Linked DNA regions of Homo sapiens. The protein of the gene in region 1 purifies or fractionates together with the protein of each later gene. This does not show direct contact. Each region holds a gene or a part of one and is shown in the gene's direction. Other genes may lie near its edges.

Region 1 (3,651 bases):
GAGAAATCTAGAGAAGCAGTCTGGCTATAGCTGCTTTGCTGGGTTGTGGGGGGCTCTGCCCAGTTCAAACTTCCTGGTGGCTTTATTTACACTGTGAAGGGAAAAGTGCCTACTCAAGCCTCAGTAATGGCAGATGCCCCTACCCCAACCAAGCTCGAGTGTCCCAGGTGAACTTCAGAGTGCTGTGCTGGCAGCAAGAATTTCAAGCCAGTGGATCTTAGCTTGCTGGGCTCCATGGGGGTGGGATCCACTGAGATAGACCACTTGAATCCCTGGCTTCAGCCCCATTTCCAGGGGAGTGAATAGTTCTATCTTGCTGGCATTCCAGGTGCCACTGGGGTATGAAAAAAAACTCCTGCATCTACCTCAGTGTCTGCCCAAATGGCTGCCTAGTTTTGTGCTTGAAACCCAAGGCCCTGGTGGTGTAGGCACCTGAGGGAATCTCCTGGTCTGCAGGTTGCAAAAACCATGGGAAAAGCCTAGTATCTGAATCAGAATGCACCTTTCCTCTCGGCACAGTCTCTCACGGCTTCCCTTGGCTGGGGAGGGAGTTCCCTGAACCCTTCCACTTCCCCGGTGATGTGATGCCCCACCCTGCTTTGGCTTACCCTCCGTGGGCTGCACCCACTGTCTAACCAGTCCCAATGAGATGAGCTGGGTACCTCAGTTGGAAATGCAGAAATCTTCTGTGAGTAACCTTCTGCGTTGGTCTTGCTGGGAGTTGCAGACCAGAGTTGCTCTTATTTGGCCATCTTGCCAGCCACCGTCTAAAGTTTGGTGAAGCCTTTAATTGAAAAATTTGAGTCTAGTCATATATATATATATGTATATATGTATTTTTTGCCTCATCCTACCCCTGCTTGCTTTCGTGGTACAAAGCAATAATCTCTCATCATTTATTTAATATTTTTCTCCTTTTGAATTTTATTATAACACGTAAATTTACTTCTCTCAAACTTCTATTTATTTCTGGACTAAAAAATATGCTTCTGAATAGGGTTCTGTCTTTCTCACGATAGAATTTTTGTTTTAGAACTAGAAAGTAAGTCAGCTTGGTATTATGTAGCACATTTAAAAAAATTTAGTTCTTGCAAACTCTGGTATTTTTCTTTGCCTTATTTATTTGATAACTAATATAGCTTGCCTAATAACTCCCTTTGGAAGCATTCAGTGGGTCATGGTAGTCTCAAATCTCAAAAGAACTTTCTCCATTACAATAGAGAGATTTTAAAATCTAAGGTTCCTCATGTGGCAATGAACATTTATGAACAATGGCAAAACTGGTTAGTCTTACTAGGAGAGGGAGGATGCCTACTTTGTGAGAGTAACATAAGATCCCTGAAGGCTTAAATTTCTGGAGCTCTTCATATATATACAAGAAACAAGAAGAAAGGGACAATAGAAAAAATATTGCAACTATTTTACTTGTTCACCTGATATCTTAGATTGCAGTTGAATAGACAGGTCAGAGTATTAGCAGGAATAGCCACAGGCTAAGGTCTAAATTCAGCAGTGGGGCACTATGTACTCTCTCTCCTAATAGATCTCCATCTGCATTTAATGCTTGGGATTACTTTACTGGCAAACAAAACCTTTAATTCTATTATAATTTTCCATAGACTCAAGAGAATTGACATCTGGTGTTAAAAACCAAAAATCATACAAATGACTGATATGTATCATTTTCCTTATTAAATATGGAAGAAAAGGGAGGAGGATGCAGAAATGGTAGGCTAAAAGCTCCAGAGAAAAACTTAACAGATTTTATGATTTTGCAGAAGATAAGTCCTTGACCTCTTCATTTTCACATTCAGCAGGTATGAAAGTTTCTTCTGTTGCATGTGGTTATATCATTCATTCTTAGAATTTTGACAGAAAGTTGTAGAACCAAAAAAAAGCTTGATATACAAACCACTAGCTGTACTGGCAATTTTACATGAAGGCATTACTGACCCTCCACAACTTCTCTCTATTAACTTTTCAGATTTATGCAACTACCATTATCCCAGGGGTTACTCAAAGACATTGACAAAAGATCTAGCAGCATTCTGTCCATTCAATATAACTACTTTTAACATCTAAATATTTTCAGGATTAACTTTGGTTGAAGTGTACTTGAATGAATTACATATTAATACCATCATCACCTCATTTGATCCTCATGTTACCCCCATCAGACCCAAAGAGTCAATACATTAAACTATTTGGTAGATGACAACTCAGGCTTCTGAAAGCTAAGTGACTTTCCCAGAATCACACAATAAGTTAATTGCTCATTCAAGGCATGAGAGTCAGATAAATGATTCCCAAACCAGGGATCCTTTTATGTTATTACATTGCCTAAAAAACTGGCATTCAAATGGAATTTAGAGGCCATTTAATCTGGCCATCTCATTTGATTGATGAATAAATTTTCTGGCTAAGAATCTATACATTTGTTTAGTGCTTTATATACTCATCAGCAGCATCAGCATAAATTAAATTTTCTATTATGTTCTCAGCCTGATTCACACTTTTTAGAAAATATAAAACTTATTATTTCATACTCAAATAATTTACTAACCTTGCATCATTAGTGAGCTATTACTACTAATATTACATCCCTATTTTTGAAATTTGTATTCAATATATTTATTTCATTAGGATGCTACTAATGAAATTAACTTCTTTTTTTTAAAAAAAAGGTGAATCATCTCATTTTTATCAGGTTCACTTACAAGTATGAAGTAGTTGATAAGTGACTCAGCGTTGGCCAACTGCAAGAATACCACTTAAAAGTAAATGGTTATTACTGAAGAGTGAATTATATATTTTCATTTTGTAGACTTAATATTTAAAATGGAAGATGGTGGGAAGCACACACATTTCTCACTCTTGTTGGGAAAGAAAATGACAATAAGATTTTCTGGTTTTTGTTTTGTTTTGTTTTTAGATGTATTAGCAAGACAGGTGTGGGGTAGAATGGAGTAGCCATGAACATAGACGAAAAGTGGAGAGAGTGAAAACATATCAGAGTGAAAAAACATAGATAAATGTAAGGGAGAAGAAAGAAAAAATAATAAAGAACAATATTTAAAGAGAACAAAATAAATAGAGCCAGAAAGAAACAGAGAAGGGGAAAAGAACAGGCAACAAATTAACAGGGAAAAGAAATCACAACCAGAAAAAAAAAAAGAAAATAAACTGCTTATTGATGAATAAAGAAAGAGAGAAAAAGAAAAATAAGGAAGGAGGTTGAGTAAGCACATAGGATCTCTAAACACTTGGCTCCAGGAGCTCATCTGACCACACTCAGACTCCAGGCATGCACACACAGAGTTGCCTGGAGATGTTTCTGTGTCTCCACCCTGCAAATGTGGTGAACCCTTCTCCTTCATCTTCCCTATTTCTGTAGTGTGTCATCATGGCCAGAAACTGATCAATGCACGAATTAGCTGAAATGGCAAGAAGGATTAGAGATACAGTGAGGAGGGTATGGTACAGACTTTTGACAGAACTTTCTCTACTAATTTGCCTAAAATAGAACACTTTACTCTGCTGATGCCATCATATATGGATTTTTTTTTTGGCAGAAACTTATTTTATTTTGCTTAGAGGAATGCTCATCTGATTAGACTCTGCGTCTATTCCAACCACCATTTAGAGAAGGTA
Region 2 (3,651 bases), on another chromosome or scaffold:
CCAGGGGTCTATGGCAGGCATGAGGGGTAGAGGCATGTCGTGGGACCCAGGCAGCCCCAGAGCCAGCCAGTGGGTGGGGCAGGGTGAGGCCTGAGGCCCTAGTGGTTGGGGACAAAGTCCTTGCCGTGGCTCCACGGACCCCTGTGCCCATCCCAGGAGCTGCTGCTGGCTCCTGCCCTCCTGGAGCAGCTCACCTGCACGCCGGGCTCGGGGGAGCTGGGCCGGATCCTCACTGTGCCTGAGAGTCAGAAGGGAGCCCTGCAGGGCTACCGGGATGCTGTCTGCAGTGGGCAGGCTGCTGCGCGTGCCAGGCGCTTCTCTGGGCTGTCTGCTGAGCTCCGGAACCAGCTGGACGTGGCCAAGGTCTCCCAGCAGGTGAGGCCCTGCCTGCCCACTGCCCGCTGCGCTGCTTGCTGCCTGAGTTGAAGGAGGGGCTGGGACCGCTTGGAGAGCTCAGGGCTCCTGGGCCCAGGCTGTGCGTGGGATGCTGCCTGTGGGTGGGTATCCAATGGCACCATGGCTGGTGCCCCACTCCTGCTCACCATCCCAGCTCCTGTCCTGGGCTCCCGTTACCCAGGCTGCAGACTCCCTCCCAGCACCCCTAGCTTGTGTCTCCCTGCTGCTGTCTCCCTGCTCCACTCCTGACCTATCACCCACCTGCAGTCCATCTCACCCCGCACTGCCCACGTGCCTGTTTCCCCTCAGCTGGGCCTGGATGCCCCCAACGGCTCGGACTCCTCGCCACAGGCGCCACCCCCACGGAGGCTGCAGGCGCTTCTGGGGGACCTGCTGGATGCCCAGAAGGTTCTGCAGGATGTGGATGTCCTGTCGGCCCTGGCCCTGCTACTGCCCCAGGGTGCCTGCACTGGCCGGACCCCCGGACCCCCAGCCAGTGGTGCGGGTGGGGCGGCCAATGGCACTGGGGCAGGGGCAGTCATGGGCCCCAACGCCACCGCTGAGGAGGGCGCACCCTCTGCTGCAGCACTGGCCACCCCGGACACGCTGCAGGGCCAGTGCTCAGCCTTCGTACAGCTCTGGGCCGGCCTGCAGCCCATCTTGTGTGGCAACAACCGGTAGGTGGGCGGCAGGGGAATGGGGGTGAGGAGGACAGCCAGGGGCAGGGCGTGAGCCCTGAATCTAGGCTCTGGCTCTGGAGGTCTCATTTGGCGCCCTGCCCTGTGCCCCGAAGTCCTGCCCCATCCCGATGCCCCTCCCACTCTCGCGGCCCTGCCCCCTAACGGCCTGGCCCGGCCCCCTGTCCCCTACCCCAGCACCATTGAACCCGAGGCGCTGCGGCGGGGCAACATGAGCTCCCTGGGCTTCACGAGCAAGGAGCAGCGGAACCTGGGCCTCCTCGTGCACCTCATGACCAGCAACCCCAAAATCCTGTACGCGCCTGCGGGCTCTGAGGTCGACCGCGTCATCCTCAAGGTGCACGGGTCTGGGACGCTCCATGTTTGACAGGCAGAGTGGGAGGGGGTCTCTGCAGGCCTGGGACCCCTGGGCAGAGGGTGTCGGCAGAATTGACACGGGAGGGGTACGGGGTGCAGCTTCGGATGGGACACAGGCTCTGCAGGTGGGGGACCAGGGGGTCGCTTTTCCTTTCGGGAGCTCCAGGGGCTGCTGTGGGAAGGCACTGGAGAGTCTGCTCTGGCAGGGTCCTCCGGCTGGGGGTGGCCGGTCCAGGGCAGTGCTGGTGGAGGAGGGGTGTGTCCAGAGACCTTCCAGAGTGTCTCGTGGGCGGGCAGCTGGGCAGTTTGGGTTCTGGGTGAGGGGTCCTGTCTGGAACAAGCAGAGGCCAGGGCTGGACATTGGCCTGGGAGGGGAGGGCCTGTGGACGAGGCCAATCCTGGGTGTAGAGGGGGTCCCTAGGATGAGGGTGGGACAGATGAGGGTGGAGCATTGGGTGCTTAAGGGACACATGGAGACAGGTCCAGCAAAGGAGCTGGTGGGCACAGCTGGGCAGTTGGGGGTCCGGAGGCCGTGCTGCCCTGGGAGTGGAGGGCAAAGCAGGTTTCACCTGAGCGCCGCAGAAAGGAGTGGAGAGCCCGGGCGTGGGACTCACGCTTGAAATCCCAGCACTTTGGGAAGCCATGGTGGGAGGATCGCTTGAGCTCAGGAGTTTGAGACAAGCCCGAGCAACATAGCGGAAGCCCGTCTCTACCAAAAATACAAAATTAGCCAGGCGTGGTGGTGGGCACCTGTAATCCCAGCTACTTGGAGGGCTGAGGCGGGAGGATCCCTTGAGCCTGGGAGGTGGAGGCTGCAGTGAGCTGGGACTGCACCACTGCACTCCAGCGTGGGTGACTGAGACCCTGTCTCAGGAAAAAAAAAAAAAAAAAGGTGGGGAGGGTTAGTTGTTGGCAATGGACCAGCCACTGGGGAGGTGAGTGGGGTGAGAGCCCCCAAGTCGGTGGGGGTCCGTCCAGAAACTCCATGCCCCTGCCTCACCCCCTGCAGGCCAACGAGACTTTTGCTTTTGTGGGCAACGTGACTCACTATGCCCAGGTCTGGCTCAACATCTCGGCGGAGATCCGCAGCTTCCTGGAGCAGGGCAGGCTGCAGCAACACCTGCGCTGGCTGCAGCAGGTGCCAAGGGTGCCCGCGAGGGAGGCGGCTGTGGGTGGTGTGGGGAGCCCCTCTCTGCCCGGCTCGGCAGGCGCAGGTCCCCCTCTGAGCCGCCCCTCCACCCCAAGTATGTAGCAGAGCTGCGGCTGCACCCCGAGGCACTGAACCTGTCACTGGATGAGCTGCCGCCGGCCCTGAGACAGGACAACTTCTCGCTGCCCAGTGGCATGGCCCTCCTGCAGCAGCTGGATACCATTGACAACGCGGCCTGCGGCTGGATCCAGTTCATGTCCAAGGTGAGCGGTGGGGCCTCCGAGCCAACCCACGACACCCCCTGCCTCGCACATGCCCACGGCGGGCTCCAGCGATGCCCCTCCCGCTAGGTGAGCGTGGACATCTTCAAGGGCTTCCCCGACGAGGAGAGCATTGTCAACTACACCCTCAACCAGGCCTACCAGGACAACGTCACTGTTTTTGCCAGTGAGCTGCCCTCCCCGCCCCGCCCCAGCCCCCCACAGACCTCTTCCTCCCCAGCCCAGCCCCACCCGTCCCCCTGTGCCCTCCCACTCCTTGGCCGCGCCCTGGCCTTCCCCCCTCACCCGCCACTTCCCCTCCCCACCCCTGCCCCTTCCAAACGGCCCCAACCCACAACCCGCCCCCTCCCTGCACCTCCCCACTTCTGCCCACCTTTCCCCTGGGGCCCCCACCCCAGCCCTGTCCCACCTTTCCCTGGACCCTCCTGTCCCCGCCCCCACACCTTGGCCCCGCCCCCGTGCCTTGCTTTCCCCCCCACCACGCCTTGGTCCCGCCCCTGCATCTTGGCCCCGCCCCAACCTCCCGGCCCCAGGTGTGATCTTCCAGACCCGGAAGGACGGCTCGCTCCCGCCTCACGTGCACTACAAGATCCGCCAGAACTCCAGCTTCACCGAGAAAACCAACGAGATCCGCCGCGCCTACTGGCGGCCTGGGCCCAATACTGGCGGCCGCTTCTACTTCCTCTACGGCTTCGTCTGGATCCAGGGTGAGGAGCAGGCCCGGAAGACCGGCTGGAGGATTCATGGGGGAGGACAGGTGTGAGGACGA
Region 3 (3,651 bases), on another chromosome or scaffold:
TTCATTGTGAGTTAATTTTTGTATGTAATATAAGGGGTCTAGTTTCAGTTTTCTGCATATGGCTACCCATTTCTCCCAGCACCATTTATTAAATAGGGAATCCTTTCTCTATTTCTTGTTTTGGCCAGGTTTGTCAAAGATCAAGTTGTTGTAGTTGTGTGGTCTCGTTTCTGAGTTCTCTATTTTGTTCCATCTGTCTATGTATCTGTTCTTGTACCAGTACCATGCTGTTTTCGTTACTGTAGCCTTTTAGTATAGTTTGAAGTCTGGTAGTGTGATGCCTCCAACTTTGTTCTTTTTGCTAAGAATTGTTTTGGCTACTTGGGCTCTTTTTGATTCCATAAAATAGTTTTATCTAAATCTGCGAACAATGTCAATGAAAGTTTAATGGGAATAGCATTAAATCTATAAATTACTTTGGGCAGTATGGCCGTTTTCATGATATTGATTCTCTCTGTTCATGAGCATGGAATGTTTTTCCATTTGTGTCCTCTCTAATTTCTTTGAACAGTGGTTTGTAGTTCTCCTTGAAGAGGTCTTTCACTTCCCTTGTTGGCGGTATTCCTAGGTATTTTATTCTTTTTGTAGCAGTTGTGAATGGGAGTTCATTTATGATTTGGCTTTCTGCTTGCCGGTGTTGGTGTATAGGAATGCTAGCAATTTTTGCACATTGATTTTGTATCCTGAGACTTTGCTGAAGTTGCTTATCAGCTTAAGAAGCTTTTGGGCTGACACAATGGGGTTTTCTAGATATAGGATCATGTCATCTGCAAACAGATAATTTCACTTCCTCTCTTCCTATTTGAATACACTTTATTTCTTTCTCTTGCCTGATTGCACTGGCCAGAACTTCCAATACTGTGTTGAATAGGAGTGGTGGGAGAGGGCATCCTTGTCTTGTGCTGGTTTTCAAGGGGAATGCTTCTAGCTTTTGCCCATTCAATATGATATTGGCTGTGGGTTTGTCATATATGGCTCTTATTATTTTGAGGTAAGTGCCTTTAATCCCTAGTTTATTGAGAGTTTTTAACATGAAGGGATGTTGAATTTTATCGAAGGCCTTTTCTGCATCAGTTGAGATACTCATGTGGTTTTTGTCTTTAGTTCTGCTTATGTGATGAATCACATTTATTAATTTGTATATGTTGAACCAACCTGGCACCCCGGGATGAAGCCAACTTGATCGTGGTAGATAAGTTTTTTGATGTGCTGGTGGATGCAGTTTGCCAGTATTTTGTTGAGGATTTTTGCCTTGAGGTTCATCAAGGATATTGGCCTGAATTTTTCTTTTTGTTGTTGTATCTCTTGCCAGGTTTTGGTATCAGCATAATGCTGGCTTCATAGAAGGAGTTGGGGAGGAGTCATTCCTTTTCAATTGTTTGGAATAGTTTCAGCAGGAATGATACCTGCTCTTCTTTGTACCCTGGTAGATAGAATTCAGCTGTGAATCCATCTGGTCCTGGGCTTTTTTTGGTTGGTAGGCTATTTGTTACTGTCTCAATTTCAGAACTCATTTATTAGTCTATTCAGGGATTCAATTTCTTCCTGGTTCAGTCTTGGGAGGGTGTATGAGTCCAGGAATTTAGCCATTTCTTCTAGATTTTCTGGTTTATGTGCATAAAGGTCAGCAGCTAAGTGAGCTCTTGAGGTTTGGGGAGACTTGGTAGATCTGGAAAACTCTTCAAATTAATGCTGTGAGAACCAGCTTCAAAAGTTGTTGGTCACATAGTTTCTCAGCACAACTTTTAAATTCCAGGGAAATAGTTATTATTCCAACTTTGGTCACTATCACCTTGGATCAGTATTGGAAATGGCACCCTTGATTGATAGCTGCCCCCCGCCCCCCGGCCCCTTGCCAAAGACCGCATCCAATGGGAGTGGGAGACAGATTCCTGTTACTGAAAGAATGAAGTATTGATGCTATGCAGGCAAAAAGCCCTAAGCTGTTCCCTATCACTTAATAATTTGTGGACATCCCATGTGGTTTGTGGTAATATAACATATATTTGAAGCATGGCATGCTTTTCCCCCTTTTCACTAGTTGTTGTGCAGGGAAGACTTGAGTTACATAAATAATTCACAAACACTTCTTACACAGATTAATTTAAATGAGAGCAGGGAGTGGTGGTAGCTCTCATTTTTTCATTGACTTTAGGTAGACAAAGAAATCTGGTGCAGAGTAAACCTGAATATGGAACTACTTAAATCCTGTTGAAGGAGCGATCATGGGACGCTGGCATTGCTGTTCCCTGTGTGCCTCCTGGTTTAAAAACCTAGGTCTGAAGGGCTGTCAGTTGGAGAACTTTAATGAGCCCTCATTACACTAAACCGTGTGGTTTATGAGAGAAGAAACTGGCTTATGATTGATACTGGAAATCATAAATGGTGATGGGTCAGAATTGGAGTTGGCACTAATTCACCTAGCAGTGGAGCAAAATTTAAGATTATATACAAAATCTGGTAATTTCATTTTTTAGCCATTATTTTTTATGTATAAATATAGTCTAATCATTTTCATTTATACTATATAACACTTTTAAAAGGTGGAGAAAGAATTTTGCCAGCTGATGCTGACATTTTTTTTTTCTTCCTAAAATGGAGGCTTATTAAATTCTCAAATCATCAGATAATCTTGACAGAGATCCTGGTTTGAGATTTTACATAAAGTTTATTTTAATGAAAAACATAATTTCTGCTTTCAGGTTTCTTCTCTATATTTGTTATACTTTTTAAAAAATGCATGTGTAATTTAATCACACTATGCAGTTTTAAAATGTAGGGTCACAGAAAGTCATGGAAAATGCTAATTAGTTACTATGTTATCACAAAAACATTTTAAAACTATTTTAAGTCTGATTTGTCACAATTTGTGATTTTGTGTAATAAATATATATACATATATAATCCCATTTAATCCTTGTGAAACCAAATGAGCCTATGTTATCTTTTACAAGTGAAACTCTGAAGGTTAACTTTCCTAAGAGCACGTGGCTGGTGTATCGTAGAGCCAAGGACCATGCCCTTAACTGCTGTCCTATGCTGCATATGTTAATATTGCCACCCTTGTATATAATTTTGGCAAAAAGCACTGGGACATTTCTTTTCCCAAAGCCCATCTCTTTACTTTCAGTTCCCTGACAACTTCTTTATATTCTGAAACTGTTAAAATGTGTTGTATTATCCATCATCTTGTGCTTCTGTTTGTTGGGAATGTGGCAACAGCTCCTGTATTGCAGCAGTGTGCCCTGTGAAGCCATTTGTTCTTTATGTCTTAGAGCAGCCTGACAGCCTTTCGTGTTAAATTCAGCAAGATTGCTTTTCATTTAACAAAGCTGAATGTTGCTTTCTAGGTGAAAAATAATTAAATGCTTTTAAAGATATATTTGATTAACAGGAAGCTGATCTGTGTAAATTAATTATAACCATAATGATGTCATAGCCTTGTCTTTTGTTATTAGCCAGGTAATTGACCAGAAGTTTAGAAGCTTATTGTAACTGACAGTTAGTAGTTTGACCTTGTGTGCTGTCTGAAAGTGAAACATGCACAATGAATGTAAATGCAATTTGTTCATTGAGCTGCATGTGCTGTCAGAACATCTGATCTTGGGTTCTTGTTTTTATTTTTCCATTATTTCTTTGTTGAAATTGGTG

The links.
Region 2: the proteins of OR4N2 (region 1) and ABCA2 purify together in Homo sapiens (affinity purification with mass spectrometry; one large-scale study listed by BioGRID and IntAct). This does not show direct contact.
Region 3: the proteins of OR4N2 (region 1) and RHBDD1 purify together in Homo sapiens (affinity purification with mass spectrometry; one large-scale study listed by BioGRID and IntAct). This does not show direct contact.

The regions. Positions count from the first base shown.
Region 1 is NC_000014.9:19,820,635-19,824,285, forward strand, and holds part of OR4N2 (olfactory receptor 4N2), read left to right. Parts: intron 1-3,651.
Region 2 is NC_000009.12:137,018,116-137,021,766, reverse strand, and holds part of ABCA2 (ATP-binding cassette sub-family A member 2), read left to right. Parts: intron 1-156; coding exon 157-375; intron 376-705; coding exon 706-1,073; intron 1,074-1,271; coding exon 1,272-1,431; intron 1,432-2,460; coding exon 2,461-2,589; intron 2,590-2,696; coding exon 2,697-2,864; intron 2,865-2,951; coding exon 2,952-3,048; intron 3,049-3,415; coding exon 3,416-3,589; intron 3,590-3,651. UniProt on the Homo sapiens protein: Probable lipid transporter that modulates cholesterol sequestration in the late endosome/lysosome by regulating the intracellular sphingolipid metabolism, in turn participates in cholesterol homeostasis.
Region 3 is NC_000002.12:226,842,444-226,846,094, forward strand, and holds part of RHBDD1 (rhomboid-related protein 4), read left to right. Parts: intron 1-3,651. UniProt on the Homo sapiens protein: Intramembrane-cleaving serine protease that cleaves single transmembrane or multi-pass membrane proteins in the hydrophobic plane of the membrane, luminal loops and juxtamembrane regions.